Homo sapiens: one gene and its partners. The protein of the gene in region 1 purifies or fractionates together with the protein of each later gene. This does not show direct contact. Each region holds a gene or a part of one and is shown in the gene's direction. Other genes may lie near its edges.

Region 1 (3,500 bases):
GGATTCCAGCCAACAAAATAGAGACTCCATTGGAAAGAAAGTATTCATATGCTGACTCTTATGGACAAGGGGCACTATTTGATTTTTCTGGTGGCTGTGTGCCTAACCAAAGATCAAGGTTTCTGTTATTAGAAAAAAAAGAATAAATATTTGGGATAGGCGTCTAGGAGTTTCTAGTATAGCTGTATTAAGTTTGAATGGTAAGAGGTATAGCCCATTGTGATGAACATAGGCTGGTGGATATATAGTTTTGAAGTGTAGGCAAGTGAGCTGAGCTGCAGTTATAGATTTGGTAGTCATCAGTATATAGATATGAATTAAACGCATGGACATTGGTAACTAAAAGTATTTGTTCTTTTGGGTAAAATAATGCATTTCTTATAATTTTTATGGTATTAATTTGCACAGAAATCCTACTTTATTCTAATATGAACCTGAGCTTATTTCACTATGTTATTATTAAATGCCAATATATTAGAACGTAATTGTCAAGGTGAGTATATAATAAAAAATTTCATAAATTTTATGTACCATCCAAAAATTAAAACTGAATTCTTACATATATTTCAGGTCGATAACTGGGGCAGAAAATTCTTTAATCAGGAAAACTCACTTTTCATTTTGGAAGAATTATTTAAACATCGAGAGGGTCTATACATTTTTCAATTTCTCCTCATTGCTGAATTAATTCAGATAGAATTTTGTTACATGTAGAAATTTCTAGACTGTCTAAAGAATTCTTGGTGTATGGTTTAGAGTGCTTTCTAAGGAAACAGCAAGCCAGAGGACACAACAAGGTGTCAGCATGTGGCCCAACTGTCACATTCAGGCACATTTTAATCAGGGTCTAGAGATTTTAAAAAGTTGGTGTATAGTAGTTATACATATTTTGGGGGTATCTGTGATATTTTGATGCTTGTATGCAATGTGTAATGATCAAATCAAGGTAACTGGGATGTCTATGACCATCTTGTGTTGGAAATATTACAGTTCTCTTCTAGCTATTTTGAAATGCAAAACAAGATATTGTTAACTAAAATTTCCCTACTGTACTGAATGGTAGAACTTATTCCTTCTATCTATACATTTGTACCCCTTAACCAACTTCTCAATACAAGTAGTAAAGTATGATTTTCAAAGTCTGGCTTTCTCAGGTATGGTATTTAGATTGTTTCAAATAACTTGTAGTCTCTTAGTTTGACTGCAAATTATTTCAAATTATCTGACATTGTAGTCAACAGAAAAATGAGGCATTTGAAAAATTGCCTGAAGTCTGATTGTTTAACAAATGCTGAATTTTAATTAGGATATGTAACTTTTTGTGTTATGTGAGGCATGGAACATTAGCTTGGATGAAAATTGAAGACCATTTAGATCAATTTAAATTTCCGCTGATTTTTTAACATGTGAAGAAAAGGAGAGCTCTCAATATCATACAAGTTGGGGCTCAGGGGATGCTGGAACTCGTTTGATGTGGAGTATGCTCTCAGATTTCTCATCTGTTTGAACTAACACTAAGACATAGGTTACTGGTTTTACAGTTTAGATCTACTTCCATTCTATCATGCAAACTTTCTTGGAGTCATCTAGACAATGTCAAGAAGAAGATTTGGTAGGAAGACAGCTAAAATTTTAAAAAGTTTCTGAAAGTCTCAAGCTATATATTAGCAGCCACAAGAGTGTCTCTAGCTCAGGTTTCTCAATCATTTTTCTTCTGATACACTTGCAGTGATATCAGCACACTGCTTGTTAATTCTTATTTTTCTTCCACATTTTGAAGTGTGTAAAATTCCCTATGATTGGCTGCAATGGCATCGCTCGTTAACTTTGCTGTGGGATATTGTTGTGTATAAAGTTGCTCAGGTAATGCCAGTTTATTATCTTGAACTAAAAAGAGTTTGAGGAAAAGAAAGCAAATATATTAGTAGAATTCAAACTTCAGTAGCTTAGTTTAAGTCTATAAACCCATAACTAATTACTTAATAATATCTTTAATTTTTTTGCAACCCACCTATCTGTATGTAGTTGCAAATTTCTAGAGATCAGGCCAAGTGTCAACTTAAATATCAGTTTGTAGTCACCTGTGCTGTACCATATTTAGTTGGGAACTTAATAAAACCTTGATGATAATCACAGTGGAGGTCAGAGACATTCCTTACTGTTGAGTTGCCACTAATATTTATGTAGTACACCTATCTAACAAAGTCTATTGATATCATATGCAATCTTCACAACCTCCTTTTAAAGGTAAGGGAAAGATACTGTCACGTAAGTTTTATGGTTGGCTAAACAGAAATAGTTAAACTCTGGGTTTTGTAACTTCTCTATGAGAACTAGCCGTAATTATTATGGTAGGGAATGCAAACATTGTGATTCAGCCCAAGCGCCTGGCTGATGCTATCAGATACTTATAGATGTGTTTTATCTTCCAGTGGATAGGACAGAAATATGTTATTTGTAATTTTATGTGGAGTAATTTGCTTGTATTTCTTCTTTTTTTAAAAAAACAGCAATGAAAATATATAATCCATGCACGTATATATGATATTCTGTTTTATTTCTACTGTGGATATTTTTATAGTCCTGTTCTAGAAAGTGTGAGAAGGATTAATTATGTCACCAATGCTTGCTGGTTTGGGCTTTTCACAAAGTAAAACACATCTCAAATACTTTTGTTGATAGGATAAGCAGGCACAATCCTATGAGCTAAGCTACGGTCAAATACATATCATATGCCAAAACAAATATATAGACCAATGGAACAGAACAGAGGCCTCAGAAATAATGCCACACATCTGCAACCATCTGATCTTTGACAAACCTGACAAAAACAAGCAATGAGGAAAGGATTCCCTATTTAATCAATGGTGTTGAGAAAATTGGCTAGTCATATGCAGAAAACTGAAAGTGGACCTCTTCCTTACACCTTAAACAAAAATTAACTCAAGATGGATTAAACTTAAATGTAAGACCTAAAACCATAAAAACTCTAGAAGAAAACCTAGGCAATACCATTCAGGACATAGGCATGGGCAAAGACTTCATGACTAAAACACCAAAAGCAATGGCAACAGAAGCCAAAATTGACAAATGGGATCTAATTAAACTAAAGAGCCTCTGCACAACAAAAGAAACTATCATCAGAGTGAACAGGCAACCTAGAGAATGGGAGAAAATTTTTGCAATCTATTTATCTGACAAAGGGCTAATATGCAGAATCTACAAAGAACTTAAATTTACAAGAAGAAAACAACCCCATAAAAAAGTAGGCAAAGGATATGAACAGACACTTCTCAAAAGAAGACATTTATGCAGCCAACAAACATATGAAAAAAAGCTCATCATCACTGTTCATCAGAGAAATGCAAATCAAAACCACAATGAGTACCATCTCATGCCAGTTAGAATGGCGATCATTAAAAAGTCAGGAAACAACAGATGTTGGAGAGGATGTGGAGAAATAGGGACATTTTTACACTGTTGGTGGGAGTGTAAATTAG
Region 2 (3,500 bases), on another chromosome or scaffold:
TTGTTTTGGGGTTTATTGGAGGGTGTATTGTTTTGGGGTTTGTTGGAGGGTGTTTTATTTTGGGGTTTTTTGGAGGGTGCTTTGTTTTGGGGTTTTTTGGAGGGTGTTTTTTCTTTGGTTCAATTTTTTTCCTCCTTTTCCCTTTTCCTCTGCTTTTCCTTCCACTCACTGTTATTTCTTTAAAATATTTAACCATTCAAATACAGTAGTTGAAACTGTCTCCACCTCATTACTTACTGAGTTCCACACCTGTCACTGGGCGTTATGCCCTTCAGAATGGTACGCTGGTATGTCAGCAGTCACCATCTGTGAGCATCTTAACAGTGCACAGTTGGATGTGGTTCGGATATGGCAGGGCTACTTTCAGGCATAGGTTTTTAAATGTATCATTTGTTTGGGGGTTTTGAGAAAAATCTTTATGTCTCTTTGAGAATAGGGGCTGTGTGTATTATCTTTAAAACTAAATGCATCTTCTCAATGGAATGTTGGAGAAATGAATGGCTAGAGTAATGTCCATTCCCCATTGATGTAACTCTTGGTTTTAGTGTCACTTGTTTAAATCTATAAGCCTGTTAATGTTCTAAAATTAAATATGCTGTTCTTGTTTTTCTTTTTTAGTCAAAGATGACTCAAATCATACAATAGGAGTGGAATTTGGTTCAAAGATAATAAATGTTGGTGGTAAATATGTAAAGTTACAAATATGGGATACAGCAGGACAAGAACGATTCAGGTAGCTTTTCTCTAACTTAATAAAAATATTTGAAAATTTGATTTAAAATAATTGATGATATTCTCTCAATATATAAGGTCTCACTCCCTCCCCAACACACCCCTTCCTTGTCCTAATCTCAGAAACTTCATTTTTGGAAACTTTGATTGACAAGACAGCTAAAATTTAGGTTAGCTCTCTGCAGCATGGATTACTAAAGAATACAGGAGGATCTCCGCGCAACTGCATTATAATTCGGAGGCTGACCCATTCTCAGGAGGATGTGGCACTGTGTATTGTACAGTATGTTTCTAGATTCAAATCAAAGCACAAGCTTGTTTTTCTGTGTTCCTTTTTTAAAGAAGAACTTTTTAAAACCTTGTGAGGGTTTGTTTTGTTTTACATTAACTAGAGCATGTTCTGATGTTTGATACACACTCCACAAAATATTCTCTCCACACTTTAATTACAATAGGGTCATAACTGAGGCTCAGAATGACTTCAGTCACTGCAAATGAGGTTACATGTTTAGTATTCTGTAACTACTAAAGCAAGAAAATAGATTAATATTTTAGTTGTGGTTTTTGCACAGATGCACAAAGTCAGAACTGATATTCATAGTTTTATAATTCAGTGAAATAAAATCCACCCCATTTGTAAACATTTCACTTGAAGTTGAGTACATGTCGTATATTAAATAATTGAAGTTTGGCTGGGCACAATGGCGCATGCCTGTAATCCCAGCACTTTGGGAGGCCGAGGCAGACCTCCTCACCTGAGGTCAGGAGTTCAAGACCAGCCTGGCCAACATGGTGTAACCCCTTCTCTACTAAAAATAAAAAAATTAGCCGGGCGTGGTGGCAGGTGCCTGTAATCCCAGCTACTCTGGAGGCTGAGGCAGGAAAATCGCTTGAACCCGGGAGGTGGAGGTTGCAGTGAGCTGAGATCACGCCATTGTACTCCAGCCTGGGCAACAAGAGCAAAACTCCATCTCAAAAATTAATTAAGTAATTGAAGTTCAATAATTGCTTCAAAAATACCATAACCACCTTTAATCACCATCATTTTTCTGGAAGCATTGATTAAACATGGTGGATTCAATTAGACATTTATGTCTTCCCTCTCAGAACCCCACTGAAATGTCTGTTAAGTAACTGAAATTGAAGTAACTCAAAAAGGCCAAGATTGAGTGAGTGCACAATTATGATTGAGAGATTTCCAAAAAAATCTTAAAGATAGGAAGTAGATGGTGCTCTGACAGCAGAAGGAGCTCCACCTTAAGTACTGTAATGGGGGAAGCCATTTCTTCCTCTGGAGTCCCAGAAAAGGTCAGGATTTGGAAGCATCAGGTTCTACAGGAGGTAGAGGTTACAGAGGTTCATGTTTACACACGAAATAAGAGGTTCAGTCTTTTACGTTGAAATGGAGTCTAGACTCAAGGTCATAAGGCCCACCTGAGGGCATGGGGTCAGGCCTGAAAAGAGGGAAATTAAGTGAAAATGAAAGCCTCTGGCCCCCAACCCACCTCCCCTACCTCTTCCCTGGTCGCTGGCAGCCAGGTGTGTATGTCCCACATAGGAGAAAGGAGCCTTCTCTGCAGAAAAATGAATAGTCAGAAAGGAAAGGCTTGAAGGTAGTGACATTTTGCTTTCCCAGTCAAACAGCCCAGTCTCTATCCAGTCATCTGAAAGTGAAACCCTCCAAGCCCACCTGCTCCACCCACACATAAAGAGCTTCTTTTAGACTTTTTCATTCCTTGCTCTTAATGATCAGGCAGAATTTTGAAGAAAGTTTCTATAGCAAAAGAGAGAGCTCAAAGTAAAGAAGCTGGAACTTTGAGGGAGTAAGAAAAACACACTAAAACCACAGTATCCTTAGGAAGAAGAGCAGAGATTGCATTGGAGTATGTAATAGAAACAAAGTCATACTTAAAAAGAGCAATCAGAATAATATGTTAAATAAACTCATGGTGAAAAATGGGAGAGATGACATAAAGAATCCTCCAGAATTAATCCAGAAGATGCAATGACTATTAGGAGTTCCAGAAGAGAGAAGAGCAGAGAGAATAATAGAAGAAAATGTTTCACTGAAGGAATGAGATTCCAGATTAATTGGCCCACCTAAAATCAAACATAGTAAGGAAAAAGTCCAGACCAGAGCGTGCCATGTGAAATTTCAGAACACCACAGATGAAGTAAGGAAGACCAGAAAGGTTCCAAGAGGGAAAAAGCAGCCACATATAAAGTGTGAAAAATGGAATTGCTTTGCACCCTTCCACAGCAACATTGGAAGCTAAAAGAAATGGAAGCATTGCCTTCAAAACTCAGGGTGAAATAATTCTTCAACCTAAAATTCTAAACTTAGCCAAACTGTAAGTGTGCAAGTAAAGGCTGAATACCAACAGATGTGCAAGAAAGAGGAGGAAGCCAAGATTATCTTTCTCAGAGACTTCTTAGAAATGTACTTTCTTAGAAAGTTTAGGAGGATATACTTCACCAGGACAAGGGCATGATCCCAGAAAGAGGAAAATGAAGCCAGCAGGAAGATCCAGCTCAGAATGGCACAGGTCTAGAGGGACAGTGAGGGAAGACTAAGACAGCAGTCAGTATGTGATGGCACTGCCCTTCCAGGAGGACCAGGGGAACAAGTGAGGGGCTCTGTAAGAGCTCACGACTCTGTCAGAGCGGGGAAGAAACAGCTCTGAAATTCAGTTTCCTAAACCTTTTGTAGAAATGAGAAGAAAGAAACTGTAAGATCCATGAGTGTAAGGGTTTTTGAGTTTTCTGTT
Region 3 (3,500 bases), on another chromosome or scaffold:
TGCCTCTTGGTTCAAGTGATTCTCCTGCCTCAGTCTCCCGAGTAGCTAGGATTACAGGCACGTGCCACCATGCCTGGCTAATTGTTTTCGTATTCTTTTAGTAGAGATGGGGCTTGACCATGTTGGCCAGGCTGCTCTTGAAGAGGATCAAGTGATCCGCCCGTCTTGGCCTCCCAAAGTGGTGGGATTACAGGCATGAGCCACTGTGCCTGGCCCTATATAGACCTTTTTTGTCTTGGAAATTAACACTACTGAAGTTGTCATGGAATTTTTTGGTCTGACAGGTTTATACAGTGCAATGCCTCGAGACATCCTGATAGTTGTGGGCAATGAGATTATCGAGGCTCCCATGGCATGGCGTTCACGCTTCTTTGAGTACCGAGCGTACAGGTCAATTATCAAAGACTACTTCCACCGTGGCGCCAAGTGGACAACAGCTCCTAAGCCCACAATGGCTGATGAGCTTTATAACCAGGTGAGTCCCTAATTATAGGCTAGCTTATTACTAACTTTTCTAAATGATCCACAAAGAGTAAGATAGAGATTCTCTGATACCTTGTATATATTATGCATTTTAGAAACCGAAAACATCATCTTATTTTTAAAAAGTGATTATTTTATGATGAATATGATAAGAGTAAATGATCCTATGATAATAATAATAATGGCTAACACTTTTTGGTGCTTACCTTGTTCTGGGTCCTGGGTTAAACCCTTTATTTACATCCTCAATCCTGTTTGTTTTTCACAACAACCCTAATCATACTGTAGTATCATTCCATTAGATGGGGAAAAACTTGCCTACAGGTGTACCACTGTTCATTAGTGGAACCAGAAAAGTCACTAGACTGAAGTTCACTTTCTTCTTCTAGAAAAAGAACCTGATCTACAGTTCAAATTCACAGTAAAATGAAATGTATGTCCCTTATTAAATCAGTTACCATTTGATCTTTTATAGAAAAAAATTTAAAAATCAAAATAGCTTCTGGGTTTAAAGACAGAAATAAATAATGAATTAGTTTTGCCACTCCCAATCAAATTTGGCAGGGGAAACATGGCATCTCGTTTTATGGTATGAGTTAAGCTCGGGACCAAATTCCTTTTCTAAAAGAACAGAATGACTTCATCCTGTTTACTTTCCGTACGGTTCATGGAATATTCTCAGAATCAGTTACTGCCTCTGTATCACTTTTTTTTTTTTTTTGAGATGGAGTCTTGCTCTGTCACCCAGACTGGAGTGCAGTGGCGTGATCTCGGCTCACTGCAGCCTCTGCCTCCCGGGTTCCAGCAATTCTCCTGCCTCAGCCTCCTGGGTAGCTGGGATTACAGGTGCATGCCACCATGCCTGACGAATTTTTGTATTTTTAGTAGAAACGGGGTTTCACCATGTTGGCCAGGCTGGTCTCGAACTCCTGACCTCAGGTGATCCACCTGCCTTGGCCTCCCAAAGTGCTGGGATTACAGGCATGAGCCATCTCACCTGGTGTGTACCATTTTTTTCTAAGTACATAGTGCCCCTTCATCCTCAGGGGATATGTTCCAGACTCTCAGTGGATGCTGATACTGAACTCTATATATTTTGTTTTTTCCTGTACATATATACATACCTATGATAAAGTTTAATTTACAAATTAGGCACAGTAAGAGCCTAACAACAATAATGAATAATAAAATGGAACAATTATATAAATATACTTTACTAAAAGTTAGGTGAATGTGGTCTCTCTGTTTCTCTCAAAATATCTTAATGTTTTGGGACGACAGTTGACTGAAGGTAACTGAAACCATGGAAAGTGAAATCATGGGTAAAGGAGGACTGTTGTATCAGGAAATTACTATAATGCTAGTTTCTTGTTTTATTGTTGTTTTGGTTTATTTATCATGGACCCGCTTCTTTCCCAGGCATGTTTTAGTCTAGAACTGAGTAGTAATATTTTGGGAAATGATGTTAAACTAATTTTCTTAGTACTGTATGCCTTATGAATAATTTTCTCATGATCCAGTGCATTGTGTGTGTTCATTCTTGTTCCAATTAGGATTATCCCATCCACTCTGTAGAAGACAGACACAAATTGGCTGCTCAGGGAAAATTTGTGACAACTGAGTTTGAGCCATGCTTTGATGCTGCTGACTTCATTCGAGCTGGAAGAGATATTTTTGCACAGAGAAGCCAGGTGAACGCAGGCTGCCTCTGAAATTTCACACTATATTATTGTATTCTTTACTTCCAAATTAAAATATTTTCATCCTAAATTTTTTTCACCTTGAATATTTTTAGTTTTCTAGACATAGAACCAAATATTTATCGATCGTATGTCTTTCTTTTGTTTTCAGGTTACAAACTACCTAGGCATTGAATGGATGCGTAGGCATCTTGCTCCAGACTACAGAGTGCATATCATCTCCTTTAAAGATCCCAATCCCATGCATATTGATGCTACCTTCAACATCATTGGACCTGGTATTGTGCTTTCCAACCCTGACCGACCATGTCACCAGGTAAGAGATTTCTTGGGACTCTGGAAAAGCAACAGAATCTAGTAACTAAAATAATTGCCACTTTTATTTTAAGCACTTCCATGGTTCCTAATGGTTCTAAATGACAGATTCAGCAGTACTCAACATTATTATGATCAAACATTGGATTCCTTATGGCTTATTACAAGATGTCCACCATGCAGAAATATACATAGTTGACACAATAATTAGTATGGGATCATCAGACTTTGGCCACTTGCTGTTGTCAGAGCCTCAAGTTTGTGCATATGTGTGTATTTTTATCAAACGATGGTGTTATAACTTGCAACAGTGGTTCCACAGCAGCGAATTTTGGACAAGATCATCCTTGCATGGCCAGGGCAATGCCACTGGGCAGTGGTTGTATTCCCTCTACAGTGGGGTAGCCTCCCTTTGGCCAACCCTGCTCTGTAGGGAAAAGTGAAGCCACTGCACTGCAGCTGGTCTATCCCCTTCACCTGCAGCCTCCTACTTTCTGTCCATAGCCTCCTACTTCCAGTTAGGTGATGAGTGATTTTCTGTTACTTGCAAGGCTGCAGTACAACTTTTAAAAACCACTGTTATACTGTGTCACTGTTCATTTCTGTTTTTTATTTTTAAACCCGATGACCATGACTACTTATTCATTTCATTTTATTATCATTTATTCGTATAGTAAGTGGGTATGTGAACACAGGGACGGCTAAGTTGTAAAAGGTCACTAAGGACAATATGGTTCTTTGAGAATGCATAGCTAACAACTGTCTTTATACCATGGTCCTAGATACAAAATGATGGGCAAGAAGTAGAAGGACTGTGGGTTTGATGTAGTCACATTTTTGTTTTCTTGTAACTAAATAGGAAATTTTTCAATTTTTAAAATGAGAATTTCTTAAGGACAGTATCTTTGGTTTTTTAAGTCTCTGAAACCTGAGAAAAGTTAAGACTATCTTTAAAAGCTGTAACATTTCTGTTACTTTTTAACTTTAATCTGGGGATTTTAT

The links. Proteins that work in one complex are often made in the same cells at the same time.
Region 2: the proteins of TMPRSS11E (region 1) and RAB4A purify together in Homo sapiens (affinity purification with mass spectrometry; one large-scale study listed by BioGRID and IntAct). This does not show direct contact.
Region 3: the proteins of TMPRSS11E (region 1) and GATM purify together in Homo sapiens (affinity purification with mass spectrometry; one large-scale study listed by BioGRID and IntAct). This does not show direct contact.

The regions. Positions count from the first base shown.
Region 1 is NC_000004.12:68,453,963-68,457,462, forward strand, and holds part of TMPRSS11E (transmembrane protease serine 11E precursor), read left to right. Parts: intron 1-3,500.
Region 2 is NC_000001.11:229,288,111-229,291,610, forward strand, and holds part of RAB4A (ras-related protein Rab-4A), read left to right. Parts: intron 1-618; coding exon 619-733; intron 734-3,500. UniProt on the Homo sapiens protein: The small GTPases Rab are key regulators of intracellular membrane trafficking, from the formation of transport vesicles to their fusion with membranes.
Region 3 is NC_000015.10:45,365,045-45,368,544, reverse strand, and holds part of GATM (glycine amidinotransferase, mitochondrial isoform 1 precursor), read left to right. Parts: intron 1-284; coding exon 285-475; intron 476-2,036; coding exon 2,037-2,174; intron 2,175-2,334; coding exon 2,335-2,499; intron 2,500-3,500. UniProt on the Homo sapiens protein: Transamidinase that catalyzes the transfer of the amidino group of L-arginine onto the amino moiety of acceptor metabolites such as glycine, beta-alanine, gamma-aminobutyric acid (GABA) and taurine yielding the corresponding guanidine derivatives.